4 linked regions of the Homo sapiens genome follow. The protein of the gene in region 1 interacts with the protein of each later gene in a pairwise test. Each region holds a gene or a part of one and is shown in the gene's direction. Other genes may lie near its edges.

Region 1 (8,794 bases):
GGGAGTTATTATTTTTCTAATGACGGGAATGATCCAGTGGAAAGGGGAAATTGATGACGTAGGCGACGTGGGACAGGGGTTTGGTGGAGCAGAGTCCCCGTGTGGGTGTGGGAACGGGCGCGGAGGTGGAGTCGGCACATGGTGTGATGCAGATTCTTAAGGTGATTTTCTGGTACTTATTTTTCTCATGAGCCGTAAGAGGGTCTGGGGGAAGAGGAGTGTCAGAGGAGAGAGGGGCTGGGTGAAGTCGCTGTGCACGAGAGTGGGCTAGTGAAGAGACTGGAGCAGAGGTTTTCCTCTAGGGGTGATCCTACTTTGGGGACACTGGGCCATGATCTGGAGACATTTTCTGGTGTTCTGATGAAGGGGAGGGGTTAGGGCAGGGCAGTTGCTGAACCTCCTACAATGCACAGGACAGTCTCCACCACAAAGGAGGATGGGCTGCCTGCCCATAGTGCCTGGGCGGAGGCCGTGGCTGACAGCTGACTTCAGGGCAGCATCTGGTGGACTTGGGCGTAAAGAGACAGAAGATGGTGTGGCGGGGCCTGTTCTGCAGCTGCAGTTGGCTACACCTACAGGCACTGGGGGGCACAGGCTGTATTAAACAGGGCTCGGCTGTGCCAAGCAAGTGCACCGAGAGAGAAGGGAAGGAGTAGGAGTATGTGGAAGCGCCACGGTCATGACCAATGTGGGATTTATGCCAGTGAGTGAGGGAGGAGCCCTCGGGGTGAAGGTCAGGAGGAGGCATTAGGATTGAGAGGCTGAAGGTGCCGGATGGATAGAAGGATTGTTGGAGTCAGGTCCTAGGGCGGTGAGCTGGGAATATAGATAGTGGTGGTAAAGGAGTGGGGCGCTTGGATTTGAGGTTGGAGCTTGCTGTTAGTGGTAGTGACAGGGGTGCCCCTGGGAGTGGGCGTCGAGTGTGGGAGGTGGGATCATCCCAGCAGGGTTCAGGGACCCAAGGCCAGGATTTTGGAAGGATCATTTCTCAATACTTGAAATCACAAGTAAGACAGGAGCACCGTTGGTGAGAGTGGCGGGTCCAGGAGGACTGGGTGGGACCATGGGTTGGCAGCTGATGGCAGCAATGATGGGGTCGAGGGTGACAAGATTTAAAGTTGGCAGTTTTTAGGGAGAGTGATCTGGAAGCCGAAGCAAGCATAAGGAAATTACTGACCTTCCCTCTGGGCCCGTGACAAGAGGCCGGTGGGAGGAGCAGCAGCTGCAGCTGAGGGCTGTGGGGAAGCTGTGTCCTGGAGAGCAAGGCGGGACAGAGAGGGCCTGCCGATCACGGCAGGCACAGGGGCGCAGGTGTTGAGGAGGTGGATCGTGGGCCACAGTGAGGGTGTGCTGGGAGCGTGAGAGACGAGGGACGGGAGCCTGGACTTCCTGGTACTGACAGAGCAGCGGGTTCGAAGTGAGGTTGGTCCTGGCGGAGCCACACAGGTGGTTGTTGAGTGTCTCAAGGACCCAGTTGAGGAAGTCGAGGATGTTTGGGGCAATGGGTGTTATTTTCAGAGGTCGTTCCCAAGTGTCTACATTCCCTCTGGACCTTGTGCATGGCACTGAAGCAAGGGAGGATTTTGGTGTGTGTGTGTGTGTGTGTGTGTGTGTGTGTGCGCGCGCGCGCGTGTGCGTGCATGTGCTTGTGTGTATGCGTGTGTGTGTGTGTGTGTGTGTATGCATGTGCACGCATGCAGCACTGCGATAACGGGGCAGGGGGAGTTAGGTGATTGCTTAAAGCACAAGTGTGTAGGGAAGAAACAAAGGCAGGAGGGGCCATTAAGGAGCCTGTAGAGTGTTTGGGTCGGGGGCTCACATTTGTACAGAGTGAGCTGACAGTGGCCTGAGTGAGGAGGAGTGGGGCAGCTGTAGGTGGGGCAGTTCTAGTAGGTGGCCCTGGAGAGCATGAGAGAGCCCTTGGGTGAAGGCTGTCACCAAGGAGGACAAGGTCTGGGGCTGGAGGGCCAGGCTGTTGGACGCTGACTTGCCCAGAATGATGTGGACTTGGGTGGAGCGCAGTGTGTACGTGGTGCTGAGCGGGACATAGGGCAGCCACTGTGACTAGGAGTTGAATGAGGGGCCTCCAGCTGGCTGTGTGAAGAGAGGTCTGGGGTCAGCCCTGGTCAGTGGGACCCCAATGTGGCCCCTGCCCTGAGGTTTGTGACCCAGGGCAATAAGCGCCTCCAGGTAGAAAGCAGCAGGTGAAGGGCTGGTGTCACTGAGAGCGCAGTCAGGGGAGAGGCGGAGGCCCTGAGGGTCTTTGTGCAGTAGAGGGCATGACGAGGCTGTGGGGACGGGAGGCCAGGTGTGGACCAGGAGGCCTGGGCAGCACAGGGACGTGGGGAAGCTGGGTGGGGGTGGAGGGCGAGGCTCACAGGGACTCAGGCCTGGAGGGCTTGCAGAGGACACTGTTTGCAGACAGTCCATCTTAGCTTCAGCGGGTAGCTTGAGATGCTGTTCTAGCTAGAGATGGTTGGTGATTAGATTCCTCTCTGCCGACCTCTGACACAGTTTCAGATGCTTGGGACTGATGAAAATGTGTAATTCTAATTTAATCTAATTTCTTTTTATTTAGGTCAGGGAGTGGTAAAACCGTTTCAAATGTGATTACAGAGTCACACAATTCTGACAATGAAGAGGATGATCAATTTGTGGTGGAAGCTGCCCCTCAGCTCTCTGAAATGTCAGAAATTGAAATGGTTAGTTAACCGAAATATGATGTTTTTTAATAATAATGTTTTACCTTCATTGAGATTAATAGTCTAGCTTTTAGATTTATGTAGACAAAAATGTCCTGTAATTTTTCAGTTAGTTTTCTACCTTCGTTAATTTTGTTGTTCTTTTTTTGAGATCCACAGAAGCATGATCTTTAAAATTCAACAAGCCTGAATCTTCTTTTTCCCCCTTCCTTTCCTGCTCAGGTAACAGCAGTGGAACTAGAAGAAGAGGAGAAGCATGGTGAGTCCTGGGCACGAGTGTGCATGTATGTCCATGTGTGTGTGCTCATGCACCTTCTCCACGTGGGCCTGGAAGGATCCAGTGCAAGGGACTGTTGTGTGCCAGGTTCTGGTCTGGGTCACACTGGCGGGATCACACTGGTGGTACATAGGACCCTGCGGGCATGGATTACTCTTAAGGCGATGGCTGCTGCTCCCCATCCTTAGAGGAGGGGGAGGGCACAGTTGGAAGCTGGAAACTCACTGGCAACTGTCCTGCAGATGACATCTCGTCTCTTCCGTACGATTAAATTGTGGAAGTAGATGATCTCTGAGGCCCTTTGCAAGTCTAGTTCTGGAATGTTATTGTTGGTTTTCTAGCTGGACAACTCAGTAGTGCAAACCCCGTTCCCCACACCAGGGTTTGAGTATCCTGGAACACAGTTTCTGCAGAAGAGGCAGGCTGAGTACTTTCCTTTATAGATCTGTTCTCACAATATGACTTTGTTTCCTGGCACCTATCACAGGTGAGTAACGAGGGCTTGTTGGTTTTGGGGGTTTGGGGTTTTTTTTGGTATCTATATGAAGCCACCCTTTTTTATTTGAGGCGGAGTCTTGCCCTGTCACCCAGGCTGGAGTTCAGTGGTGCTATCTCAACTTACTGCAACCTCTGCCTCCCGGGTTGAAGTGATTCTCGTGCCTCAGCCTCACAAGTAGCTGGGACTACAGGCGTGCACCACTATGCCTGGCCAATTTTTGTATTTTTAGTAGAGACAGGTTTTCGCTACGTTGGCCAGGCTGGTCTCCAATTTCTAACCTCAAGTGATCCACCCGCCTTGGCCTCCCAAAGTGCTGGGATTACAGGCATGGGCCACTGTGCCCAGCCTAGTCACGGATTTTTAACATAGTGGATGTGTTTCATTTCAGCCCATCTCAGTTTTTCTTATTAATGTTCAGATTGCCCAGTATTTGACCAGGGGAGCCTATTGGAGTTATTTTCTGGGGGCCTTTAGACACATCCCAGTACACTCTTTAGCTTCCTTGTTTTCTGATACGACAAGGTGTTTCCAGCTTATTTTGTGTACTTCCTGCCCCATAACTGCCTCATTTCTCCAAGGCACCTGGCCGCTTACTGCTCTGGGTTGCTTCTTGTTTCCAGGCATTTTCACTGCAAAAGCAGGGATATACTTTTTTAAAATAAGAAAGTATATTCTGACTTAGTGATGATATTTCCAATTCCGATTTAGGATTGTAGGGTTTTGCCTGCATTCTTTGGTTTTATATATGCATCTCTTCCATCTCATGCCAAAAAGCCTGGCTCCCAGCAGCAGCGGCTGTCCCCATGCTTTATGATCCTTCATATGCTCACATAGCAATTTTAGAACACCACGACTGGTTTTTAACAACAATAGGATTACTGGAAACGCTGAAGGATTTTATTTTATTTTATTTTATTTATTTTTATTTATGTATTTATTTTTGACATGGAGTCTCGCCCTGTCGCCCAGGCTGGAGTGCAGTGGCGCGATCTTGGCTCACTGCAACCTCTGCCTCCCGGGGTCAAAAGATTCTCCTGCCTCAGCCTCCTGAGTAACTGGGATTACAGGCGCCCACCACCACACCCAGTTATTTTTTTGTATTTTTAGTAGAGACGGGGTTTCACCATGTTGGCCAGGCTGGTCTCGAACTCCTGACCTTGTGATCGGCCCCCTTGGCCTCCCAAAGCGCTGGTATTACAGGTGTGAGCCACCAAGCCCAGCCCAAGGACTTTTTTTTTTTTGGTAGGTATGTCTGCCTGTTTGTTGGGTATATCCTATTAGGGATGTACAGTCAGTTACCCTGTTTTAAAGTTGTGAAACAATTCTCTAGTGGCGCATGCTTGCCAATTGGATATCACTAAGTTTATTTCATTTTGCATTCAACCTTTAGGCATTAGTGTTGTTTACCTTTTTAATGTAAGATAATTCGCATGATTTTAAGGTCAGATGTACAAAACCAGGTATAATCAGAAATGTGGGGCTTTGACCCGTCTTCTCTACCCTCTACTCTCCCTGTCTCCTCTACCCTCTACTCTCCCTGTCTCCTCTACCCTCTACTCTCCCTCTCCCTGTAGGTAACAGTAAAATAGGGCTTATACTTACATTTGAAAAACAAACAAATAAATAAATGCATATGCATGTGCATGTGTATTTACTGATACCTACACTTATTTCCATCTTGCTCTTTTTAATTTGACAGCAGATGCAGGCTTTCATTTTGCAGCAATGCAGAGAAACCATCCTCATTTCCTTCATAGCCACGTCGTCCTCCACCGTGTGGACGTACCCTCGTTTATTCAGTCAGCCTCGGGCTGATGTATGCTTGGGTGAAACACTATTCCAAAAAACTTCACATGATATTTATCCCATGAGTAAATTCTGAAAGAAGTGGAATAGTCTTGCCCCAGTGTAAAAGAAGTATCCGTACTTAGAAGCATTTCTTGTTATTTCTGTTTGTAATAAATGGCTATATTTTTGGATGTCAATCTACACTCCTTCTTAATCTTTGAAAATAGAAAATCTATTTTATTTCTAAAGCTTTTTACTTTTCAAGGAGCTGATTTCCCTGAAACACTTTGAAATGTGATAATTTCCACTACCAGCTGTCTATCACTCTTGTGTACTATCTCCTTAACAAATAAAGATTATTTGAAACTGTTTCAGCATAAAAAGAGATAGGATAAAAACTTAGTGTTTTTCCCACCATCCCACCCATTTAGAATAGGTTTTTGGGATAGAGAATAAACTTTTAACATAAAATCACTGATTTTTCAACAGGTGGACTTGTGAAAAAAATTTTGGAGACGAAGAAAGATTATGAGAAATTGCAGCAGTCACCCAAACCTGGGGAGAAGGTAATGGAATGATTTCCATAAACACTGGCATTTTAGCAGTCTGTTTCATGCATTTACAGACTTTTACAAGTTGGAGCATCTTTCAATATTACCATTATCAGTGATGTCTGTTTGCATATTTAAATGCCATTCCTGGCCAGGCATGGTGGCTCACGCCTGCAATCCCAGCACCTTGGGAGGCCAGCGCAGACAGCTTACCTGAGCCCAGGAGTTCGAGACCAGCCTGGGCAACATGGTGAAACCCTGTCTTTACAAAAAATACAAAAATTACCCGGGTGTGGTGGCGCATGCCTGTAGTCCCAGCTACTTGGGGGGCTGAGGCAGGAGAATCGCTTGAACCTGGGAGGTGGAGGTTGTAGTGGATTGAGATTGTGCCACGGCACTCCAGCCTGGGCAACGGAGTGAGACCCTGCCTCAGAAAGAAAAAAAAAGCCATTCCTCCCTCCTCCCAGTTGGGAGGATATAAAGTGTGGGACTTCCTCTGTGGGGCTACTTCCCTGGCCTGGTATCCAGCCCCGTCTTGGGAGGGGGCAGCGGCTTACTTGGGGAGCTCAGGAGCCAAGAGCCAAAGGCCTGTTGGGCTCTGACTCCCTGACTCTCCCCTTCTGGCCTTGCCCATCCCTTCTCCCAGGTCCTGTTTGCAGACTGGGAGGCTGGCTGCCTGATCCTGGCTGATTGCAAAGTAAGAGACTGGGAATTTTTTTTTTTTTTTTTTTGAGGTAGAGTCTCGCTCTGTCGCCCAGGCTGGAGAGCAGTGGCATGATCTCGGCTCACTGCAAGCTCCGCCTCCCGGGTTCACGCCATTCTCCTGCCTCAGCCTCCCGTGTAGCTGGGACTACAGGTGCTCGACACTGCTCCTAGCTAATATTTTGTATTTTTAGTAGAGACGGGGTTTTACCGTGTTAGCCAGGATGGTCTCGATCTCCTGACCTCGTGATCCACCCACCTTGGCCTCCCAAAGTGCTGGGATTACAGGCGTGAGCCACCGCGCCTGGCCGGGAATGTTTTTAAGTCTTTTTTTTAAATACATGTTCTATTGTACCTGGTTCCCCGCAGTCTCCCTCACACATGTGTGATGTGCTTTTGTTGGGACCTGTGGCCTCTTGCCAGCCACTACCCTTTCCTTGGGCACATGACCACTAGGGCGGGCACCTGTGGGCCAACAGGGTGTGTCTCAAATGCCACAGCCAGGTTTCTCTTACAGTCACTTTAAAGAGGAAGAAGAATTTTTTTTTTCTTTTAAACAGAAGTTTCTTGGATATTTAGCCTAATAACTCAACAATTTAAAAAAGTTTTATATATAGGGATGTGTGCACACATACGTACACACACATGCACACATATATGTATTTCTCCCCAGCTGAATTAATGGTTGTTTTAGATAATTTTGCTTAACATGTCCTAGTTTGTCACAAAGCTAGGGCCTGAAATAGCCAATGAGAACTGTGCAATTGAGACTAACAGTAGAGGGAGCCCTTTTAACAATAATAACTGGAGAATGTTGTCGGCGGAGGCTTTGCTGACAGCACCACTGTTTGCCTTGCTGAAAGGAGAAATGCCTTCTGCAGTTTGTTTTTTCATTGATGGAATGTTAATACATTATAGTCCTTTCTGTATGCATGAGGGGTTGTCCTGGTGTCCCTGGTGGTATTTCTGAGACCCAGTCGAAAACCCTGAATGTGTCCCTCCAGGCTCCTAGTGGAGGTCACCTTTGAAGCCTCCATTGGTTTCAATTTTATAGCTATGATTTTTACGCAAAGCATATTAGGATTGTGTTTCAAAGTCTCCTTGGAAGAGTAAATTATTTCAGATTGGTAAATCTTTGGGCTTCAGAAGATGAAAGGAAAAGTGTCCTTTTTTGGTAAACATCTGCTGTTTTGAAAAAGAGTGGTCAGTGAGAACTTCAAAGTCAGGGTTGATGTATGTTACAGTTAGGGGAAAATCAGCAAGTGTCTGTATGATTTTCTTTAGGATATTGATAAACATCAGACTTAAATTTAACTTGTTGGTCTTCTTAAAACATTTTTGTTACATTTTTTTTTTTTTTTGAGTCAGAATCTCGCTCTGTTGCCCAGGCTGGAGTGCAGTGGCGCGATCTCGGCTCACTGCAAGCTCCGCCTCCCGGATTCACGCCATTCTCCTGCTACATTTTTTTTTTAAATAAATAAAAATGTGGCCAGGCGCAGTGACTTACACCTGTAATCCCAGCACTTTAGGAAGCCAAGGTGGGCGGATTGCTTGAGGCTATGAGTTTGAGATCATCCTGGCCAACATGGCCAATCCCCTTTCTACTAAGAATGCAAACATTAGCTGGGCATGGTGGTGCACACTTGTAGTCCCAGCTACTCAGGAGGCTGAAGCACAAGAATCGCTTGAGCCCAGGAAGCAGAGGTTGCAGTGAGCTGTGATTGCACTGCTGCACTCCAGCTTGGATGACAGAGCAAGCCTGTCTCAAAAAAAACATGTAGGAAGAGCCAAAGTCCTTTTTCCCCCTGCCCCAGTCCTGTTCCCCCGAGGGCAGTCCCCAGGATGAACTTGGTGTGTATCTCTACTTTGGATGTGCCTCGTGGTGTTTTTTGAGTTTCTAATGTCACCCTCGTGTTGATCTGTTATGCAGGTTGCTTTCTTCATGCAGCATGTTTCTCTCTCTCATGTTTTGATACATGTAGATGTAGTTTATTCATTTTAATTGAAGCCTTATAGTCCATTATTTGCTTATTAATTACTCTATTGATGGACATTTAGGTTTTTCAGCCATTTCCTTTCATAGACAATGCTTCCATGGCTCCTCTCCATGCCTCCTAGCATTCAAGAGCCAGTGTCTCTTCCAGCAAGAATCAGGCCACTTTCTGTAAAGGGCCAGATAAAAATACTTCAGGCTTTTTGAGCCAGATGGTCTCTTGCAACTATTGAATTCTGCCGATGTGGCATGAATGCAGCCGCAGCATTAGACCATGTAAAT
Region 2 (5,622 bases), on another chromosome or scaffold:
CTTCACTGAGGGCTGCCAAACTATTGGCCCACTTTATGAATAGTTGCATATGCTTTGTTAAAAAATTTTTATACTTGCAGTCTCAGCCAAAATCCAAAGTGATTTTCTAAAATATAATTAATACTCCATGAAATTCTTTGCACTAATAAAGCACAAAAAGATAGATATACAAACTTGGTCACCTTAATAGAAATGCCTGAATGACATTAAACTTTTAATAAGTAAGTCTTCAGTTGATCTGGTGCCATCACTGTTTAAGTGCCTGCCCGTGAATCCGCTTCATTTTGTAGAGAAGCTATATCTCTTGAAATAAATATTAAAACAAAATACTCTCCCTAGTCTATAGCTTTAATTTTTATTGGGATATCTTTAATTTTTATTGGTATTTTTAACAATTATTATGGGAATCTGTAAAGTTGATACATGGCAAGGTAGTAATAGCCTAGTAAAGCATTTCAGTTCCAAAGACAATACTTGAATAGTGGAAGGATTTACCAATGTGCAATAATTAAAATTAGCCATGTAAAACTATGGGACATAGACGAAAAGGCAAGCCATAAAGTAAGTCTCAGATTATCTTACTCTAAATCTGAATTTTGCTACGAAGTACCCAGGGACATTGTGCTGTTCTTTTTCTCCGTGCTGGGAGATTCGTGCTAGGTCGTGCTGCATTATTAGTAAAAGGCTATTGTGATAGTTAACCCTCATTTAGGAGGAGCTCTAAGATGGATTCACAAAATACCCAAATGCATACAATACATGTGGGTCACCTTATAATTAGGGTCTAGAGTAATTTGGAATGTAAAGCAATTTTTATTCTGAGGTTTCCTAATTCAAATGTTAATAGTGCACCAAAAGGTCAATTCAAGAGTTTATTATTATTATTTTTCAACCCAAGTAAAAGCAGAGAGAAAATAGCCACCTCCACCATAGCCTCAGAAGCAAGCCAACAGCCTGAAACAGCTTTGAAATGAAAAGTTGGTGTGGCGGTGATGGTGGCAGTGATAATGGTGACGATGGTTGGGTGCTGGTGATGGTAGTGGTAGTTGTGAAGGTGGTGATGGTGGTTTGATTGATAGTAAAAAAAATGTTCGTTAATACAAGTAGAGAGTAAGTAATCAATCAATCACTCATAGCCAAGGTGGAAAAGATGTATCCCATCATGGAATATTCCTGTTCTGATAGAAATCTTGTGCTTATCTATGGAATTCTTTTGATATATATTTACATTGGGAACCTGAATGTAGCTTGACATTTTTCCATGTAAACACCAGTAGCCTGATCCAACATTAAGCTGATACTAACAAACAACGTGTAATGGCTTCATTAATAAGGCTTTGCTTCTTCCTGGAAACTGGTGAAAAATCAAACCTTGTTGTGTACACCCTCGATGCAGCTTCTGTGTTGTCTTCACCCAGAAATGGGGAATGATTTCCCAAATGGCAAAGAAACAGAGTGATGCTATCTATCTGCACCTTTTGTAAAGTCTGTCTTTCTTTCTCTTTGTTTTCCAGGACACAATGTAGGAAGTCTTTTCCACATGGCAGATGATTTGGGCAGAGCGATGGAGTCCTTAGTATCAGTCATGACAGATGAAGAAGGAGCAGAATAAATGTTTTACAACTCCTGATTCCCGCATGGTTTTTATAATATTCATACAACAAAGAGGATTAGACAGTAAGAGTTTACAAGAAATAAATCTATATTTTTGTGAAGGGTAGTGGTATTATACTGTAGATTTCAGTAGTTTCTAAGTCTGTTATTGTTTTGTTAACAATGGCAGGTTTTACACGTCTATGCAATTGTACAAAAAAGTTATAAGAAAACTACATGTAAAATCTTGATAGCTAAATAACTTGCCATTTCTTTATATGGAACGCATTTTGGGTTGTTTAAAAATTTATAACAGTTATAAAGAAAGATTGTAAACTAAAGTGTGCTTTATAAAAAAAAGTTGTTTATAAAAACCCCTAAAAACAAAACAAACACACACACACACACATACACACACACACACAAAACTTTGAGGCAGCGCATTGTTTTGCATCCTTTTGGCGTGATATCCATATGAAATTCATGGCTTTTTCTTTTTTTGCATATTAAAGATAAGACTTCCTCTACCACCACACCAAATGACTACTACACACTGCTCATTTGAGAACTGTCAGCTGAGTGGGGCAGGCTTGAGTTTTCATTTCATATATCTATATGTCTATAAGTATATAAATACTATAGTTATATAGATAAAGAGATACGAATTTCTATAGACTGACTTTTTCCATTTTTTAAATGTTCATGTCACATCCTAATAGAAAGAAATTACTTCTAGTCAGTCATCCAGGCTTACCTGCTTGGTCTAGAATGGATTTTTCCCGGAGCCGGAAGCCAGGAGGAAACTACACCACACTAAAACATTGTCTACAGCTCCAGATGTTTCTCATTTTAAACAACTTTCCACTGACAACGAAAGTAAAGTAAAGTATTGGATTTTTTTAAAGGGAACATGTGAATGAATACACAGGACTTATTATATCAGAGTGAGTAATCGGTTGGTTGGTTGATTGATTGATTGATTGATACATTCAGCTTCCTGCTGCTAGCAATGCCACGATTTAGATTTAATGATGCTTCAGTGGAAATCAATCAGAAGGTATTCTGACCTTGTGAACATCAGAAGGTATTTTTTAACTCCCAAGCAGTAGCAGGACGATGATAGGGCTGGAGGGCTATGGATTCCCAGCCCATCCCTGTGAAGGAGTAGGCCACTCTTTAAGTGAAGGATTGGATGATTGTTCATAATACATAAAGTTCTCTGTAATTACAACTAAATTATTATGCCCTCTTCTCACAGTCAAAAGGAACTGGGTGGTTTGGTTTTTGTTGCTTTTTTAGATTTATTGTCCCATGTGGGATGAGTTTTTAAATGCCACAAGACATAATTTAAAATAAATAAACTTTGGGAAAAGGTGTAAAACAGTAGCCCCATCACATTTGTGATACTGACAGGTATCAACCCAGAAGCCCATGAACTGTGTTTCCATCCTTTGCATTTCTCTGCGAGTAGTTCCACACAGGTTTGTAAGTAAGTAAGAAAGAAGGCAAATTGATTCAAATGTTACAAAAAAACCCTTCTTGGTGGATTAGACAGGTTAAATATATAAACAAACAAACAAAAATTGCTCAAAAAAGAGGAGAAAAGCTCAAGAGGAAAAGCTAAGGACTGGTAGGAAAAAGCTTTACTCTTTCATGCCATTTTATTTCTTTTTGATTTTTAAATCATTCATTCAATAGATACCACCGTGTGACCTATAATTTTGCAAATCTGTTACCTCTGACATCAAGTGTAATTAGCTTTTGGAGAGTGGGCTGACATCAAGTGTAATTAGCTTTTGGAGAGTGGGTTTTGTCCATTATTAATAATTAATTAATTAACATCAAACACGGCTTCTCATGCTATTTCTACCTCACTTTGGTTTTGGGGTGTTCCTGATAATTGTGCACACCTGAGTTCACAGCTTCACCACTTGTCCATTGCGTTATTTTCTTTTTCCTTTATAATTCTTTCTTTTTCCTTCATAATTTTCAAAAGAAAACCCAAAGCTCTAAGGTAACAAATTACCAAATTACATGAAGATTTGGTTTTTGTCTTGCATTTTTTTCCTTTATGTGACGCTGGACCTTTTCTTTACCCAAGGATTTTTAAAACTCAGATTTAAAACAAGGGGTTACTTTACATCCTACTAAGAAGTTTAAGTAAGTAAGTTTCATTCTAAAATCAGAGGTAAATAGAGTGCATAAATAATTTTGTTTTAATCTTTTTGTTTTTCTTTTAGACACATTAGCTCTGGAGTGAGTCTGTCATAATATTTGAACAAAAATTGAGAGCTTTATTGCTGCATTTTAAGCATAATTAATTTGGACATTATTTCGTGTTGTGTTCTTTATAACCACCAAGTATTAAACTGTAAATCATAATGTAACTGAAGCATAAACATCACATGGCATGTTTTGTCATTGTTTTCAGGTACTGAGTTCTTACTTGAGTATCATAATATATTGTGTTTTAACACCAACACTGTAACATTTACGAATTATTTTTTTAAACTTCAGTTTTACTGCATTTTCACAACATATCAGACTTCACCAAATATATGCCTTACTATTGTATTATAGTACTGCTTTACTGTGTATCTCAATAAAGCACGCAGTTATGTTACAAAAAAGTATTGACTGGACTGCAGTACTTTGTTTTTATTTTAATTTAGTTGTTGTTACTTACTTACTTACTTTTTAAATAGGTAATACATGCATATGAGTAAAAAACTATAATCCAGAAAGACAGTGAAAACACTCCTAACTACCCCTTCCCCCATATCAATCAATCATCCTCATTGCTCTATGAGTAGACATTATTAATTTCTTATTTAGTCTTCCAGAGGGTCTTTCTTTATTAATTATTATATAAGCAGTTAAAATAATATATATGTTCCTATTTATTTTTTTCCTATTATTATTTCATAGGATATAGCATTCTCTGCACCCAGTTATGCACCTTACTTGTTTGTTTGTTTAAATTTAAATATGGACTCAAGAAATCTTTTCATTTAAATATATAAAATGCTTTCTCATTCTTTTTTATAGCTGTATAATATTTCATTATATGTTCATAGGATATTTTATTTAAGCAGTTCCCTTTGGTGGGATATGTAGTCTGTTGTCAGTCTTTCTTTTGCTATAACAAACAATATTGCACATTTCTCATTACATCATTTCATTTGTGCATAAACAAACAAATCTGTGGGATACTTCCTAGAAGTGAGATTGCTGGATCAAAGGGGGTAAGCATTTGTAGACTGGGAGATGATACATTTTGTGCAGTGATTGATTGATTGATAGTCATAGTGTTTGTTTGTTTGTTGTGTTTTTTGTTTTAATAATGACAAGTATATTAATTAAGTCAGTTTGCAGTTCATACTTTGCTTCTCAAGAGAATTTCATATCACTTCTATTCTTAATGTCACCATCTAAGAGGATGCATGAGTGAGTAGTAAGAAAGAGACACCTAAAATGATGTCTCACAACTGGTTCTGGGGAAGAAGAATCCCTTACCATAGTCAACCACCACCATGGGGAGAACCTCTCCTTTGCCCCTGCCCTGCTCTGTTTCTTGCCCTAGCTGCAAAGGAAGCTGAGAAAGTGGGTAGCAATGTCAGCACTTCTTAGGGAGAGGCTATCTATCTTTACCTATTCCCAAGGTTCATGGATGGGGTGGGCGGGGTTCCCCAACAGTGTTCAGATACTGGTGAGCCAAAGGAATAACATAAGTCCACCAGGTGCAGCCTATCCTAGTGATTTTGGAAATAATAGGAGATGAGATGATCCATCTCATTAGAAATGATGTTTGTTAGTAGATGTGGCATCTCTGCTGTGAATCAATCACTTGCTAATTTTTTGAAAGTAGGGTGATGATGCTGACCTAAGTGACTACCACATTGAAACACTTCCCTTGACATCCACACATACCAAGAAAAATTTTCATCCTATTTAAATAAACAAATCATTTATCCTTCCCACCATTACCCGAACCTACCTTTGTTTGAAACACCCAGACTGGCTGTTTTG
Region 3 (8,794 bases), on another chromosome or scaffold:
CCTTTCTCTTCCATTGATCATGTTTTGTATTCCATTTGGAAGATTTGAATTTTTGTTGAAGAGAGAGTTCTGAGTTGATATTTTCTGATTAACAACATCCACACTGCTCATGTGTCCACCTTTCTTGAAGTGCTAAATGCTTGGCACTTGCATAACTATTGAATTTTGACTTTTGGATTAGTATATTCTTGGACAAACATAATATTTAAGTCTGTAAATTTCTGTAAATTTCTGATCTCCTCAGTTTTTTTTTTCCTCAAATTATTCTTTTTAAAACTTCCTTTATGTTTGGTCTCTTTGAAGTCAGATGCCCAGTTAGGGGAGTATCTGATAGCCCTGGCTTGGTCTTGGTCTTCATGAATCTTCCTGCTGTTATGTCTCATCTCCACTAACAGAACTAAGTATCAATACATTGTTTTGAAATGTTCCATTAATCTTTCTCTTGTGAATGAATGGAGAATTAAATATACCAGACAAAATTGTTTAGTTACAGTAACTAAATAAAAATCTTGTAATATATTAATTGACTATTAATACCTCTTCTTGAAAAATAAATACTAGATTTTATTTTTACCTTTTTAGTTTTATCTATGTCATCTTAGTGATGGGCTATAGTCATGATATCTTCAAAACATCAGTGACTTGAATCTTGCTTGTGAATCGTTCTCTTCCAACTGTGAACTATTTTGCAAGTTAGATTTCTGGATTTGAAGGTCATCTGAGAGGACCTCACATGAAATCTTTTTAGGATGACAAGAAAAAATAATGACATTGGTTTTTTTAGCAATTATTACAATTGATAATTTTTGAAATTTTTTGCAGCTAGTAAGATCTTTCCTAATAATTTTATGTTCAGGAAATACATTTAGCTTTTATTTTAATTAATGAATGGAAGTCATTGCAATGTTAAGCCAAATATTTTATCATTTTATATAAATTACATTTAAAATTTGTAACATGTTTTAGCCAATATTGATTATTTATTACAATCCTTGATTTCAAATTTTATTGAGTTTTTTTTTCCTCCACAAAGAATTACAAAAAAAAAATTGCTGGGCATGTCATGGTTATACAAAGAAAAGTCCTGCTGCCCTGTGTCCTGTAGATTCATATTTGACTCAAGTGTGTTGTGCATCTTCACTTTCAGTCTTCTCCAGCCACAACTGTTACGTCTCCTAATTCTACACCAGCTAAAACTATTGACACATCCCCACCGGTTGATTTATTTGCAACTGCATCTGCGGCTGTCCCAGTCAGGTTGGTAAATAAATATGCAGTTAACTGTTTATTAATATTTTATTAGAGTTTGGTTTTATTTTTATGTGCTGTACCCAAATGATTTCACCAAAGGAAATCTAATCCTAGTAATGTTGAAGTTTTTACTACACAAAGTACATTGTTTTACTCCTGTGCCTCTTAAATCATTAGAAAGACCTAAGCTATAGAAATCACCTTGTTGTCACAAACTGAGAAAGGAAATGGAAGAATGATACACACAATTTATTCTGAAATTGGCTGATATGGAAAGTGTTTTCTAAAATTAGTTTCTTCTTGTGGGAGATTCAAAAGGTATTTTAAAATGCTTTAAAACACACACACACACACACACACACACACACACACACAACCCAACTTGGAATTGTTTGACCAATTAGCTAGTGCGTATGAGGAACTCACACTCTGGTGGTAGGAGGAGGCCTTTGGGGTATTCCTAATCAGTTTTTATAGAACCTACAGATCAGAACAGTAGTGAGAAATCTGGGGATGACTGTGCGTTCTTTGAAATCTCTAGCCTCCTAAAATCAATCCCCAGCTCATAGGTGTGTCCTCAAATAATAAATTTAGGTCAATTCCTTAGTTCATTTGCCTTAAGAGGATTCTAATATCATTTTGTAGTATCTTTGACTCTGATTATGAATGCCCTATGTTTGGAGACTTGAACTTTGAACTGAGCAAGAAATCCAAGTATTGTACCCATGTTAACTGTGTGCTTTACTCTCTACTTGCTTAGTTCTGCATTTTATAATAGCAAATTTGGCATAACCAACTCCTTTCTATTACTGTTCTAATTAAATTGCTTCTTACAAAAGCTTTAAGATATTAATAATAAATATGTATTCCTTTCCTGGTATTTAGTCCAGTTGTATTTATGAAATGGACATCAAAACTAGCAATGGTTTCAGTGGTTTTGAAACTTTTTTTAAAAAGCAGCAGAATCCTTTCTTCAAAAGAATATTACTTGGAAATCTAATATGTAAAAAAAGATAAAGATGAAACTGCTGTTTATGAAGGCAGGTGGGGAACCTGGGACCCTGATGGCTTGGCACCTGGCCTGGTAACTTTTAAGCCAGTGCTCCTCAAATCTGAAGGTACATGTGAATTGCTTTGGCATCTTATTAAAATGAAGATTCTGAGGTGGTAGATACAGGGTATGCCTGAGATTTTGCATTTATAAAAACATCCCAGGATGCTGCTAGTTTGAGGCCTATACTTTGAATAGTAAGGCTGCTCCTTGGAGATTCTACAGACAGAGAAGCTTTGAAAAGCACAGCCTCAACTGAGTAAAAATAAAAAATGCAGTAGTCGTTTTAGGTAAGTCCTCTTACAGGCAAACTTGATATATTATAGTCTAACGTAGGAAAAAGATAAATTAGTGGTTAATAATTCCCTTTAGTGTTCTTTGGTTTATAAATAAATTCTTCTCAAGACATGAATTTTTTTTCTATACAAAAGATTTTAGGAAATAGAGAAAAGATAACCTCAAGGTTATGATTTTGATTTCCCTGTAGAATGCTGCACATAGATCAACTCCAGCCCACTCTCTGTTTTTGTAAATAAAGTTTTATTTGAACAAAGACATGTTGATTTGTTTGTGTATTGTCTATGTCTTAATTTCATTCTACATTAGCAGAGTCAAGTAATGATAGAGACCAACTGGCCCTCAAAGTCTAAAATACTTACCATCTTGCCCTTGACAAAAGTAGTTTGCCAACTCTTGGTATATGCTATAGCTCTATACTTTCCAAAGTATTATTCTTTTATTGGATTTAAAATACCTAAAATCTTTGATGATTTCTGCATGTCTTTATTCAAAAACACCTTTATGTTATAAAATTTCAAAATCTGATTTTAATGTTTTATTTTCCTTTCAGCACTTCTAAACCATCTAGTGATCTCCTGGACCTCCAGCCAGACTTTTCCTCTGGAGGGGCAGCAGCAGCCGCAGCACCAGCACCACCACCACCTGCTGGAGGAGCCACTGCATGGGGAGGTGAGTAAAACCAGACAACCTTGCCATTTCTCTATTCATTTTATTTCATTGTTTTTACTTAGGCTATAATTGTTAACATTTACCTTTTGATTATCTAAAATGGTATTAGAAACTTGGAGGGAAAATGTTAAGAATGGCATTTATTGATTGAAATATATATTGAGAGAGAGAGACAGAGAAAGTGCCTGTAATACAGTGAGAATGTTCAAATAGTCATATAGTTTTTATTTTAACAGTTGGAACAAGGAAGTTTTGTGGGTTTTTTGTTGTTCTTTTTTATTACTACTCTAAAATTCTGATTATTTTTAGTAATTGTTCTCTAGAGACTCAGGCCTTGAGGATTGAGTATTCCCCTTAATTTATGGTTACTCAAAGGTAACATTTCCAATTTGGTTTGGTCAGGTGTAGCCTCGTTCCTGGATTCTTTTAGGCCTGAATTGATTTTATTCACATTGTATTTGACTTCATACAGTTGAAATCTTTTTACAGATTCTTATTTGTACCAGAAAAATCCATACTTTAAACTGATTGACTGAGAGGAATCACATCTAAGCACTTGATTCCCACTTTATTTATGGATCTCAGGAAAAAAATCAGCCTTTTATAAATATTTGATTTAAAACATTTAATATTAATATAAAAATTAAAGTAATTGCTTCATAATGCTCAAAGCTGCAAAGAGTTGGTTTTAAATACCATGCCTTCCTGTACCAAACTATCAGAATAAAATTTTCAAAAAGTTTAAGACATGCCTTGTACAACTATAGGAGCAACAGAAATAAAAGACTTAGTAACTCACTAATGAGGAAACCAGCAAGATGATAAAGCTGTCTCAAAGAACATTTTGAGGAACTGAGTATTTATAGGTATTTTAAAAGGAATGTTAGAATAAGATGGCTAGGTTAGATAGAAAGCTGTTAATGACCTATAGGGTAATAAAAATCATAGCCTTGAGGTTATCTTTTCTCCCATACAGAGATTATTTGCATCACTAGCAGACAAGATCTGTAACAACATAACATTGGAGAATCAGAGCCTTTAGTGCACAATAATAACTAAGTCAAATGAAGTTATATTTCTCTAAATAATTGAATGTCCTTTGGTGGTCTTGTTAAACAGTGTGTCAGTATAACATCAAAAGTCCTATCTGTAATCTCTTGATCTCATTTCCAAGTTATTTTGGTAACAAAAATAAGAGAAAGATAACCAGTTCTGAAATAATGTTGCTAACTATAAATAAGAACATTTAAAATGTTGGCACGTTTCCATTTTAAATATGTAAACCTTATCCTATATTGAAATGTTCAACTCCTAAGGCTACAGCTATCAATTTTTAAAATAAAATTGTTCTCTCAGCTTTATTTAACTTTATTAAATTTCTATTGGTAAAGGAAAATATTGCTAAAGAGATTTTATAAGGGCATTCTTTTTTACTCATGTTTTTATTCTGAGCTTCATCACTGATTATTTTAATTTGCTAATAATTTATTTTCATTACCATATTGTCTTTGTTAGAACTTTAATGAATAAACAGTGAAACTGTAAACTAGTCCCTTTTCCATATTCCCTGGCATGAAACTGAAGATAAATTTTATCTTTTTTTAAAAAATTTTGGCACTAAAAGAATGCCAAATAAAAGGAAAAAATAAAAGGTGAAATTTTGTTGAATTGCAATATAACATTTTTATTCATTTTCATCTCTAAATACTTTTTGCTAAGACACATAATATTGTAAGGAATTGATTGTAATAACCAATTTTATTAGAATACATTTTAGCCTTTAAAGTTAGAAATATGTAACTATTGATGATTGAAACATTAACATACCATTGGACATAAAAAGACAAAGCAGAGCAGTATGGTTTTAGCCAGGGCTGTACTATACAGACAATGTAGATCATGCATTGCTCAAAGGCAGGGCAAGGGGGCTGAAATCCAGCCAGAACTCTATAGTCACGCTGTGAGCCTTTCTCATTATCCTTGAGAAAGAGATGCTTTACTTTTTCTAATCTGTCTCACTACAGGGAGTACCTTTTTTTTTTCTTCTTTTTAAGATATTATAGCTTTTATTTTAGAATATAGCTTTTATTTTATTTTCAAATTTTAGCCATAAGACAGTAAAACGAACTCACTGATTTACCAAAGACAGTTGGATTAAAAAAACTGAGTGCAGTGGCTCATGCATGTAGCTTCTGAGGAGGCTGAGATGAGAATCTCACTTAAGCCCAGTAGTTAAGAGTCCAGCCTGAGCAACATAGTGAGATCCTTTCTCAAAAATAAAGAAAAAAAAATCACAAAAAGGCAGTTGGATCCAAATTATATTTCTGACAAAATGGGGCTTGTTCACATGGCTAAACATCAGTTGTCCCAATAGGTAAGCTAATGGGCCAAAATTTGGGGTAAAGCAGTTTCCATAGTAGTTTGATTTTAAAAGCATATTTTTATGCTTTTTTCAGTTATTTTAAATGACTATAAGGTTAAAGTTTTTTTGATAAACACATAAGATTAATTTTACAATAAAAACTAAGATAGCTCTCAAGTTACAATGAAAGCTAATATTGATTGAGTGCTCCTGTGACAAGTACTATGCTGGTCATCACTACACTTACCCAAGAAAGGTACTATCTTTAACCTGTTTAAAATGATAAATATGTGAAAACCATGTAAACTTTCTTATTTCTTTCTTTTTTAACTTTAAGTTCTGGGATACACATGCAGAATGTTTGTTACATAGGTATACATGTGCCATGGTGGTTTGCTGCACCTATCAACCAGTTATCTAGGTTTTAAGCCCCGCATGCATTATGCATTTGTCCTAATGCTGTCCTTCTCCTTGCCCCAGGGAGTACGTTTTTATAATTAGTACAAAGGCACCTTATAGGGCCTGATGTTCACCTTTTGATGATTAGACAGCACTTTTGCCGCAACAAAACATCTACAACTGCAACATTTCATAGCAATAGAAAAGTCAGCTTTGGGGGGAAATGCTAATAAAGAAATTCTCTAATTTCTAAGCAAAATAGTAAAAATTATAAGACTTTAAGAAATTGAAATAAACTTCTACAATTTGCCCGGTGGATACCCAGTCATGGTTGAAGGTGATGCTAAATTGTAACAGATATGTGTTTGTTTATTTGACTAAGCAAAAAAATAAAATTGTTTTCTCAATCTTGTTTGATAAGATCAAGCCACTTCTATTATTGAAGCATATTTGAATTCTGTATAACTAGGCAGTAAATTATAAACTGTAAAACTCTGTAAGCCTAATTGGATGGTCTCATTTCCAAGGACCATAGCCACTTCAAATGTCTCTAAATTTTTCTTGGGGGTTATAGGTACCAACACACATTTTTATTTCAGGGGACACATTGTAATGATAGCATTTTTTTTCCTGTTGGTGTAAAGCAACCAAATTTTAGCAAATTTATTTTAGTAAATTTAATTTAAATTGTGCATGTAAGATTTGGCATTTCTACAGGCTGGTGATGAACCCAATCGGCTGAAAGAATACAGAGGATTTTTTAAATCCTCATCTTTGGCTCCCTAATAGAGTGTTTTTTATTTTCTTCATAGTAAATTCATGTTGCAGAAGCACAAATAAGTGTGTGTTGTGTGTCTGTATATTTTAGACATGGGAAAACAGTTTCTTTTTATACATGCTTAAAGTGAAATTTCTACTTTTTTTGAGAAACATGGGATTACTGCCAGAATTTATTAGAATTAAAATTATCTACCAACATGTATTTGAAAGCTAATCAATATTATGTGATCATATGACTCTGATATCTTCATGTATAAGGTTAGCTACAGCACAAGTAGTTTTGTGACCCATTTGCTTGTTAATAAAATCTGAAGTACATGTCTAAAGGTGAAACTTGGTCTAGAGGATCTCTAGGTCCCTTCTAGCTTAAAAGTTCCATGATAATAGGTAGTACATTTATTTTTTAATTGCAAATGGTGTAGAAGACACATAAAGCTAAGGTTTTTTTAGTTAGTGCCTTATCTGGCTTGGACATTGGTATGGTTGCATGTTTCAACTTTAGCTCTTATTTATTCTTATGCTGCCATGTAATGGACATCGGTAGACCTTTTGGGAGAGGGTGAGTAAAGCTTTGTTTTTAAACTTCCATTTTGACAGACTTCTGTATGTAACAACTGTCCTTATTTTGATCATTTGGAGTCTGGTATATCTTTTGTCCTTTGCTTTTCTTCTCTCCGTTTGCTCTCTGTCTCTGGTGAAATATAGATTCTTTGGCTGCACTTTCCTCTGTTCCCTCTGAAGCACAGATTTCAGATCCATTTGCACCAGAACCTACCCCTCCTACTACAACTGCTGAAATTGCAACTGCCTCAGCTTCTGCCTCCACTACTACAACTGTTACTGCTGTCACTGCTGAAGTGGATCTCTTTGGAGGTTAGTTAGTCTCGCTGCTACTTTCATTTTTTCAGGATTGCTAAAATTACTTGGGAGTTAAGGTCTTTAAAATTTTTTCCGTTATGTAACAGCATGTCAGAGTGTTTAAGTACTTTTTCAATGTTTATTCATGTATATTTATCTTCACTAAATTCATCAACTTTCTCTTCACTTAATTTTAGTAATTTTATAGCAGAGATTGCAATGCATCAGGCCCATTTGATTTTCACGTTTTTTAACATTAGAATTCATGTTGCTACCTTCAGAACTCCTGCCTTTAGGTTCCTGCTCTCCAGTGTCTGTATAAAAGTGGTACCAGAGCTCTCTGTCACCTTTAGGTTTATTTAGCTTTTCGGCCAGATTAGAACTAGCCCAGAGAATATTTGGGGAATGTAGGAGGAGCAACACAGGCCTAAGTTGTTTCTTAATGTTTAGGGCAAAAAATAATCTAAGAGTAATTCAGGTTTGGAAGCCTTTGAAGAGAGTTAAGGGATGTGCCTGTTTTTACAGCTTTAAGTTTGTTCTGTCCAAATAAAAACTTGGATCATCTTTGGTTTTGGAACTCTGAGAAAACATCTGAAGCAGCACTTGAAAGGCTGATTGAAAACAGATTTAAGTCAGTCTTTGAAATGATTGTCTAAAAATATGCTTTCCATGGAAATGTAAATTCTGACCCACTATAATATGCCTGGACCTGATGAGCCATGTGAAGCCAGTTTATTCATATATGTATCCCCATCTGTGTGGTACCAATGTCCACACCTAAAGAAGTTCTCATATCAAACACATACGTCAAGTGATGTTATAGTCATTATAGTTTTGTGTATCTTCATTACCATATAACATCTTTCCTAGGGCATTTTGAGAATATGGTAAAGAAATTGGAGGAAGAAAATGGTGAAAGCAAGAGAGATTTGGCAGGCTTTGGTGTAATCAATATGTACCCCTGGGAACATACATTTAACACACTGTCACCTACCACTCTGCTACATGCCATGCTCCAGTCTCTAAGGTTGGCCAACATCATCCAAGACAAGGAGCACTCCACTAGACACAGCTTTGTTGCCACTGCTGCACAAAAGACATTTTCTGCTGCCTTGCTGTCCATT
Region 4 (8,794 bases), on another chromosome or scaffold:
ATGGCATCTATAAAAATAAGCTTTGGAGAGATGGAGCCTGTATTTAGCACGCTTGTTTTCTCTACTAATGACTTACAAAGTTTATTGAGAAGCCATTTATTGCCACAGAAGCAAAGCAAAGTGCCTACCCTGGTTTCGCATTTGTAGAATCAAAAGCAGTTTGCGTCCTTTGGTTTTGCTGGTACACGCCCTGGGTTTGTGCAGGGACAATGATGTGGTTTAATCAGGCTGGGGCAGCCTTTATATTCGGTATGAAGCCACTCTGCATTGCAGTATTCTATGAAACCGGGGCACAAACACACAAAGGCTAGGGCACATGGGCACATGGCAGTGTCGGGGTGGGGAGGCTGAGCCAATGACCCACCACGGGGACTGACAAAAGAAACACCCAACAGCATTTTTATTGTATCTGGTGGGTTGTTTCTGGTTAGGAAGAGAAAGGTATGAGGTGGTAGTAGACATGCTATTTTTACAGATAGGGCTTTGCTGAAGGAATGTGCTGAACTCATAGGCTATTGCTTTTTGTCTTCTCAGATGGAAACATTGCCAGTGAAGACAGCTCCCTCTCAGATGCCCTTGTTCTTGAGGATGGTAGGTTTATGCATTTCCTGCTTACAAACCTACAGCTCAGAGTAAACAGAGATGAATTTCTATGTAGTCTGGGGATTGCCTTGTGTAAAGGCAAGAGCCAGGCCAAAAGGCAGCTGGGCTCCCTGCAAGCTCTCTCATTTCCCAGTATTCACCTCTTTGGTTGGGAGTGGGTAGGTGCTGCATAAACCCATGTGTATTAGAGCTTTTCATCAGTGAGTGGTGCTTTACTTTTTTAGAAGCCAAAAACTTTTTTTTTTTTTTTTGAGACAGGGTCTCACACTATTGCCCAGGCTGGAGTGCAGTGGTATGATCTCGGCTCACTACAACCTCTGCCTCCTAGGCTCAAGTGATTCTTCCACCTCAGCCTCCCTAGTAGCTGGGACTACAGCATGCCACCACACCTGGCAATTTTTGTATTTTTTTGTAGAGACTGGGTTTGCCATGTTGCTCCTGGGTTCAAGCGACCCACCCACCTCGGCCTCCCAAAGTGCTGGGAGGATTACAGGCAGGAGCCACCATACCTGGCCCAAAACCACGTTTAGCTAGACAGAGAATCTACACACTAGGCATAGCTTCCTTTTGAGTATTCATGGTATCTAAAAGAAAAGGGTAGAAATTGATTTAGATCACAAATCAAAGATTGAAACCCACTAGGAGAGTGTAAGGATCGTGAGAAGAAATGGAACACACCCTCTGTTGCTTCCCAAGACAGTAGTGAAAGTAAGAGGGGAGATATCCCAGTAGATACACACTCAGGCTGGAAAACTGTCTTATTATTTCCCACTGAACTCTTAAAACCTGGCAGTTAGGATATTTTCTTGGGAAATTCTTAAAAAAACAGAACTGATCCCTCCCCCAACCCCCATCACCACCATACGTCGGGGAAGAAAGAATTCCAAACCCAGAACCATGTGAGAATACTCCTGTGGATGTTTAACCATCGTACTGGGAGGCGGGTACATTAATTATATGGAAATATATTAAGTGGCAGTTAATTTTTTTGCCCTGTATGGAAACCTCAGGCAGGCAGTGATAAGTGGCTGTTCAGATGGAAAGCATGAAAGGTCCACACTAGTCATAGTAATAATGATAATTGCAATAATAATAATGATTGCTCTTGATGTGAGGAAAGTCTGGCGGATTATTTACCCAGTCACCTTGGCTGTGCTATTAGAAATCAGATTGGAATATATTTGTCTGCTTCATTACAAGCCGGGGACGCCATTGGGCTACAAGGAAATGGGGGGCTTGAGCATCAGAGATCCCAGCCCTGCGGTTGGCCTCTGAGTATCCCAGTCTCCCCTGGAAAGGGAAGAAAAATTGAGAGATTCCTTGGTAGTAGAGGGGTGCCTGGAGCAATAGGTAATGTCACGGGGTAATTTTGAGATATCATTCCGTGATTCCAGCTTCTTCCCCGTGTTCCAGATGCAGACCCCTGGACTTCCTCACAGGTGTCGGCACATCCTTTTGCCACAGTCCCACTGCAGGGTCTCTTTCTGGGGACTCTTCCTTTACTGATTTGAGGGCAAAGGAGGAGTGGGTGCATAGTGGGTGTCCACGGCTGGGGGACTGAGAATTAGGCTGTGAAACAAGTCGCTGGAAATGGATTTAGGGGCAAGTGAATGGTAGTTGGTTGGTTGTAAGGTTTGCTTCTGTGCTTTTTTCCCCTCCACCTCCCATGTCTGCCTTCCCTGTGAAGCCTGAATCGTTCCCTCCTCTCTCTTCTCAATGCTGACCTGCCCTAGCCTGAAGTCCTCATTCATCCCCCTCTCTAGTCTCTCTCCCTTCCTTTCTAGTTTTAGAACACTGCCAGGTGAATAGTTCTAAAACAGGATTTTTCACTCCGACGCATCCGTGCTTAAGACATCGCAAAGTTTTCCTGTGGCTTTTCAAAATCTCAACTCGGAATTCCAGGCCCCCATCAGTCGGGCTCTTGGCTCACATGGTGCACACAGAAGGCGGCTGTGCTGGCCAGAGCTCTGCCCTTACTCCCCCTGCCCCTCCTCACCAGCCCCTGCCTGGCCAGATGTGCCTGCAGCTGGTACCCTGCCCTCAGGGCCTCCACACTTTGGTTCAAGCCCTTCCTTCCTCCTCCTCTTTGCCTGCCCACTGCTCAAGCCCCTTCAAGACCAGCCTCTCCCACAGCACCTCCTAGACTCACTGAATTTGCTTTTTCTGAAAGTCCTCTAGCGCACTGACGTGTTAGATCATTTCTTTCCTGGAGGCAGGGAATCATTTATTAATACATAATCTTTGTAGCTCATCTCCTTAAAAAAGTTAAGGCAGTTTCAAAATTAAAATATAGAGGAAGAGATTAAAAGAGAATAAACACAGCTCTGGGGGAAAAAAGCAGAGTAGACACCCGATCCACCCAGCAGGTATTTACAATGGACATATAGACCCTCATTCATTTTTTCTTCTCCAACCAATGGTTATCAAGCACCTACTATGTGTCGGCTGAGGATCTAGCAGCAGATGAAACAGACAAAACTCTCCCAGAACTCAGACCCTCCCACAGTGAATCAGATGCTTAGCATCTGTTGAAAGACAACTTAGCACTACAGCAGTAACTACATTTTGCTGTTTAGTGTGAAGCAGTCATTTGTTGGTGGTATTTAATGACGTTCAGACTTCACTCCATTCGTGTCTAATCAAAAGTGACGCATCTCTTCCCATGCAATCCCGCCTGCAGTGGAGGTTTGGCTTGCCCTGGTTTGGTTTGACTCGTCTTGACTTGTCTTGGCAACTGGGGAAGAGTTTCAGGGTTTCTCATCACAGGGGTGAAGGTGTGGGTTTGGCTGTGTGGCTCCAAGGTGCGGGTGGAGGGGTGTAGGGGTTCTGTCTCAGCCTGTGGGAAGGATGACCGGGGCTCAGTTCCTCTCTTCCTGTCTTTGTGCAGAAGACTCTCAGGTTACCAGCACAATATCCCCCCTACATTCTCCTCACAAGGGACTCCCTCCTCGGCCACCGTCGCACAACAGGCCTCCTCCTCCCCAGTCCCTGGAGGGACTCCGACAGATGCACTATCACCGCAACGACTATGACAAGTCACCCATCAAGCCCAAAATGTGGAGTGAGTCCTCTTTAGATGAACCCTATGAGAAGGTCAAGAAGCGCTCCTCTCACAGCCATTCCAGGTGAGCTGCATCGTGAATGAGGCCAAATGAGGCCTCCCTCTATGCTCTGGAAGAATCAAAGGGCCGTCCCAAGTAGCATCCACGGTGACAAAATCCACATCAACCTAGTTCCTCCCCGTGGGGTTTGCCTTTCACGGGGCCGTGCTCACAGCGCCCTCTGCTGCCGACACTGTTGAGGTACATTTTTGTGACTCAGAGAAATTGGGGCTTTGGCCCACAATCAACGTGATGGCAGATGGTTTGAATGCTGTTAAATTCCAGAGGAATTAATTAGGAAATCTCAGGCAGCGCTATTCTGAAATAGCAAGTGAAAGTCCACTCGGAGCAAATGCAGAGTGGTTCAGAACTCTACCCCCTCATCCAGCAGAATTCTCCAGCCAAGCAGCTGTAATCCAAGCTGTGTATTATCAGCTCATTACCGGGCTGACTTTGTAGGGAGGTTTTTTTTGGGGGGGAAGGCATTTTCGGTCTGCTTCTCTGTTTTTCCCATTTCCTTTAATCACCCTACCAAGCTCCAAGGGGGGTGCCAGGACAGGTAAATATTTGTTTCTTGGAAAACAAAAACTGTAAGGGCAGGACCGTCACACTGCCTGACACAGAGAAGGCTGACCAGGGTTTTCCTCTCATATTGCCTAGGTTGGGAGGGGGGAGGGCATACCCCCTGCTGGGGAAAGGCTGAGAACCACAGTAGAGGTCTGACCAAGCGAGGTGGGAGTCACGGGCGAGCTTTCCCCACATGCTGGGATCATTGTCCTGAACTAGCCAGCCCCCCAGGAAAGGTGCTGTCTGTCTGGCGGTGACCACGTGGCATCCTTGGCTTTGCAGCAGCCACAAGCGCTTCCCCAGCACAGGAAGCTGTGCGGAAGCCGGCGGAGGAAGCAACTCCTTGCAGAACAGCCCCATCCGCGGCCTCCCGCACTGGAACTCCCAGTCCAGCATGCCGTCCACGCCAGACCTGCGGGTCCGGAGTCCCCACTACGTCCATTCCACGAGGTGAGTCTGCCTGGCCTTCCTGCTCAGACCAAGCCTTCCTTTTTAAAATTGGGCATTGTCAGCCCCAAGCTGGCCCAAATAATGGATGAGCTACAGTCAGACCTGAACCTGGGAGGATAAATGAAGCGGAATAAAAAACCAAGCTGGCAGCAGTCAACCCCCGTTAGCCAAGAGACCCATGCACAGGGCACTTGGAGTCAGCCAAAGAATCCCCGGGCTTCTGGAGACAGGGAGCATGGAAAGTTTCCTAAGCAAAGCAGAGGCCACAGAGGCTGGCTGGGTTAGCATGGGAAGAGGTCTTCTATCTTTCTACTGAGGCCTAAATTTATACTGGACTTCCTTTAGTGCCTCAAAATGTAAATTCATAAAGAGCAAAAGAGCCAGGCAAAAATGAGGCTTCAGTGAATCACACCTTCTGTTTCTTTTTTTTTTTTTTTTTTTGAGATGGAGTCTTGCTCTGTCACCCAGGCTGGAGTACAGTGGCGCGATCTTGGCTCGCTGCAACCTCTGCCTCCCGTGTTCAAGCGATTCTCCTGCCTCAGCCTCCCAAGTAGGTGGGATTACAGGCACCTACCACCACGCCTGGCTAATTTTTGTATTTTTTAGTAGAGACGGGGTTTCACCATGTTGGCCAGGCTGGTCTGGAACTCCTGACCTCAGGTGATCCACCCACCTTGGCCTCCCAAAGTGCTGGGATTAGAGACGTGAGCCACCGCTCCTAGCCACACCTTCTTTTTCTAAAAAGAAGCAAACCAGATCACGGAGGGCCACGTGATGGGGGCTTTCATCCCCCTTCTGAGTGGCAGTCGGAAGTGGGACTCGCCTCTTCCTGTGCTTGGCCCGTGGGGCCGCTGTGAAGTTCACATGCAGTCCCAGCATCGGGCAACATCATCTGCCATGTGATACTGTTTTGCACTTCCCTAAGCCCTGAGTGGACTCAAACGAGCAGAATGAATTATAAAGTAATGGTATGGTGAGTATTTGCATCATTCATTGTTTAATTATCTCATTTGCCACCAACCTTCTATTTCCCAGTTTTCACAGGAAAGGGGAGTCTATTTATATGGATCATGTAATAGTATTTGGTTAAACAATATGAAGGGCCTCTGTAGGACTGCTTTTATCTGATCTGTAAATAGGGACATTTCATCTGGTTTGTGTTTTCTTTTTTTTTTTTTTTTTTTTTTTTTAAGAGAGACAGGGTCTTGCCCTGTTGCCCAGGCTGGAGTGCAGTGGTTTGATCATAGCTTACTGCATCCTCAAGTGATCCTCCCTCTTCAACCTCCTGACTAGCTGGGACCCCTGGTGTACAACACTACACCCAGCTAATTTTCTAATTTATTTGTAAGAGATGAGGTCTTACAGTGTTGCACAGGATGGTCTCAAATTCCCAGGCTCAAGCAATTCTTCAGCCTCCTGAAGCACTGGGATTACAGGCGTGGACCACAGTGCCCAGCCCTATCTGGTTTAACATGATACTAAGGATTCTGTGATTCTCTTTGTGTCTATAGAATTATTTAAAAAAAAAAAAAAACCCAGAAATCGAAACCTTTCTGTGAGTCCTAGCTTCAGTCCCACTTCCCACTGGGAATCATGGTGGAGACCCCAGGTTCACCTCCCGCAATGGGCAGTTCCCGGATCCCTGGGGCAGCCCTGCTGAGTGAGACTCTGGCTTGCTGGGCTGGGGCCTGCGCCCGCGTGCAGACACCCAGTGCCCTCCTCAGGACCCCCTCCTCCCCGGAGCACCCCTCCTTGGGCCCACTCCCCACCCCCAGACCAACCCGGGTCGTCTCCCGGCAGGTCGGTGGACATCAGCCCCACCCGACTGCACAGCCTCGCACTGCACTTTAGGCACCGGAGCTCCAGCCTGGAGTCCCAGGGCAAGCTCCTGGGCTCGGAAAACGACACCGGGAGCCCCGACTTCTACACCCCGCGGACTCGTAGCAGCAACGGCTCAGACCCCATGGACGACTGCTCGTCGTGCACCAGCCACTCGAGCTCGGAGCACTACTACCCGGCGCAGATGAACGCCAACTACTCCACGCTGGCCGAGGACTCGCCGTCCAAGGCGCGCCAGAGGCAGAGGCAGCGGCAGCGGGCGGCGGGCGCACTGGGCTCAGCCAGCTCGGGCAGCATGCCCAACCTGGCGGCGCGCGGGGGTGCGGGGGGCGCGGGGGGCGCGGGGGGCGGTGTGTACCTGCACAGCCAGAGCCAGCCCAGCTCGCAGTACCGCATCAAGGAGTACCCGCTGTACATCGAGGGCGGCGCCACGCCCGTGGTGGTGCGCAGCCTGGAGAGCGACCAGGAGGGCCACTACAGCGTCAAGGCTCAGTTCAAGACGTCCAACTCCTACACGGCGGGCGGCCTGTTCAAGGAGAGCTGGCGCGGCGGCGGCGGCGACGAGGGCGACACGGGCCGCCTGACGCCGTCGCGATCGCAGATCCTGCGGACTCCGTCGCTGGGCCGCGAGGGCGCCCACGACAAGGGCGCGGGCCGTGCCGCCGTCTCAGACGAGCTGCGCCAGTGGTACCAGCGTTCCACCGCCTCGCACAAGGAGCACAGCCGCCTGTCGCACACCAGCTCCACCTCCTCGGACAGCGGCTCGCAGTACAGCACCTCCTCCCAGAGCACCTTCGTGGCGCACAGCAGGGTCACCAGGATGCCCCAGATGTGCAAGGCCACGTCAGGTGAGAGGGGGCGGCCAGGTGCACGCGGGAAGACCTGAGGGCGAACTGCTTGCCGGTGTCAAGGGCTACCGCGGGGAAGGTACCCTTAGGACTGGGTGCAGTGAGGAACGGGAATCATTAATTAATTCTGGGAACGCTGCTGTTAGATGCGGGAGACTTGAGGTCTTCCAGGCCTTTGTTGACCCCGCCCCGTTCTAACCCTAATCTTGCACCATAACCGTGCACCTGACCCTCCAGAGTGCACTGGGCCAGCTCTCCCATTTCTCCTTGTAAAGACAGAAATCTAAGAAAGTTAGTTAGGTAAAGTAAAAGTAATGTCTCTGGGTTTATCCAACCAAAGGTGTCTTTTACCCTAGTGAGGAGAGTATCCCAGTGAAAGCCCACAGCTGTAGCTTGCAAAGGAAGCTGGGTTGGGGATGGGCTTGGGTCAAGCCTAGAGATTTGGCCAGTGTCTCCCCAGATGGGGGCAGACTGGCTAATAAACAGTGCCAGAGCTGTGCGTTTGACAGAATTCCTGGCTGCTCCTGGCTTTCCCATTTCGATGATGATGTTATGCCATAGCCACAAACTATTATTTAAGTGTCTTAAATATCCTTGACGTTATATCTGAAAATTTCTATAAAGTTTACCTTATATTCTCATACTCAAGAGCATTGGGCGGTATTGAATCAAGTAAAAAACAAAAAAAAAAGGAAGAAACCACTCATTCCCTTAAGTTACATTTAATAACAGTGACAATGACCAACATTGAGCAGTTGCCTCGTGCTCCGGTCTCAGCACTGGCTTATTAACATACTCTTACCACTCAGAGAGGGACACTGAGGAGAAGAGAAATGGTAAACATCATAAGAATAAAATGAGAGGTAAGAATAAAATGAGAGTCAGAAGCAAATGGGAGGAACTCTGAGTCAGGAATTTGGTAAAGATCGGGGGAAACAGAGTGACCTGAGATAATGGGGGGTTCATCTTTGGGGAACTGTAGGAGATTCTTGGTGCCTGGAGACAGCAGGGCAAAGAGGAAGGAAGAACCTGGATGCCCTAGCGAGCCAGGCTCTGGCATTCTATCCCCACATCCCCGTGGACGTTTATTAGGGTCCACTGGCCAAATGACAAGCTCCAAAGATCAGGTAATGGTGGGTGTTCCGTGGACTTCGGGGTCCCAGAACCTTCTTTATGTTCCTTCTTCATCTGTAAAATAGCCCAGTGAAATTTGCCATTGACTCCCCAGGAAGATCTTGAGTATGATCATTCTGTGACCCTATTAGATAAAGAACCAACGTTTTGTAAATATCTCCAACAAACAGGAGGGTTTATGTTCTATCAAAACTGCAGCACTGGTCTAGTAGATTTGCTTTATGTAAAGAGATGAGGTAGATCTTTTGGAAC

What was found.
Region 2: the proteins of TRAF3IP1 (region 1) and DMD interact in a two-hybrid assay, tested with the Homo sapiens proteins (2 studies listed by BioGRID and IntAct).
Region 3: the proteins of TRAF3IP1 (region 1) and SNAP91 interact in a two-hybrid assay, tested with the Homo sapiens proteins (2 studies listed by BioGRID and IntAct).
Region 4: the proteins of TRAF3IP1 (region 1) and FRMD4A interact in a two-hybrid assay, tested with the Homo sapiens proteins (2 studies listed by BioGRID and IntAct).

Annotation. Positions count from the first base shown.
Region 1 is NC_000002.12:238,350,249-238,359,042, forward strand, and holds part of TRAF3IP1 (TRAF3-interacting protein 1), read left to right. Parts: intron 1-2,578; coding exon 2,579-2,702; intron 2,703-2,924; coding exon 2,925-2,961; intron 2,962-5,755; coding exon 5,756-5,832; intron 5,833-8,794.
Region 2 is NC_000023.11:31,117,823-31,123,444, reverse strand, and holds the end of DMD (dystrophin), read left to right. Parts: intron 1-1,514; coding exon 1,515-1,526; coding exon of another isoform or gene 1,527-1,612; 3' UTR 1,613-4,223; downstream 4,224-5,622. UniProt on the Homo sapiens protein: Anchors the extracellular matrix to the cytoskeleton via F-actin. Ligand for dystroglycan.
Region 3 is NC_000006.12:83,600,162-83,608,955, reverse strand, and holds part of SNAP91 (clathrin coat assembly protein AP180), read left to right. Parts: exon of another isoform or gene 1-523; intron 524-1,147; coding exon 1,148-1,257; intron 1,258-3,152; coding exon 3,153-3,271; intron 3,272-7,356; coding exon 7,357-7,371; intron 7,372-7,517; coding exon 7,518-7,685; intron 7,686-8,794. UniProt on the Homo sapiens protein: Adaptins are components of the adapter complexes which link clathrin to receptors in coated vesicles. Clathrin-associated protein complexes are believed to interact with the cytoplasmic tails of membrane proteins, leading to their selection and concentration.
Region 4 is NC_000010.11:13,655,250-13,664,043, reverse strand, and holds part of FRMD4A (FERM domain-containing protein 4A), read left to right. Parts: intron 1-534; coding exon 535-591; intron 592-3,490; coding exon 3,491-3,728; intron 3,729-4,553; coding exon 4,554-4,721; intron 4,722-6,521; coding exon 6,522-7,408; intron 7,409-8,114; exon of another isoform or gene 8,115-8,666; intron 8,667-8,794. UniProt on the Homo sapiens protein: Scaffolding protein that regulates epithelial cell polarity by connecting ARF6 activation with the PAR3 complex. Plays a redundant role with FRMD4B in epithelial polarization. May regulate MAPT secretion by activating ARF6-signaling.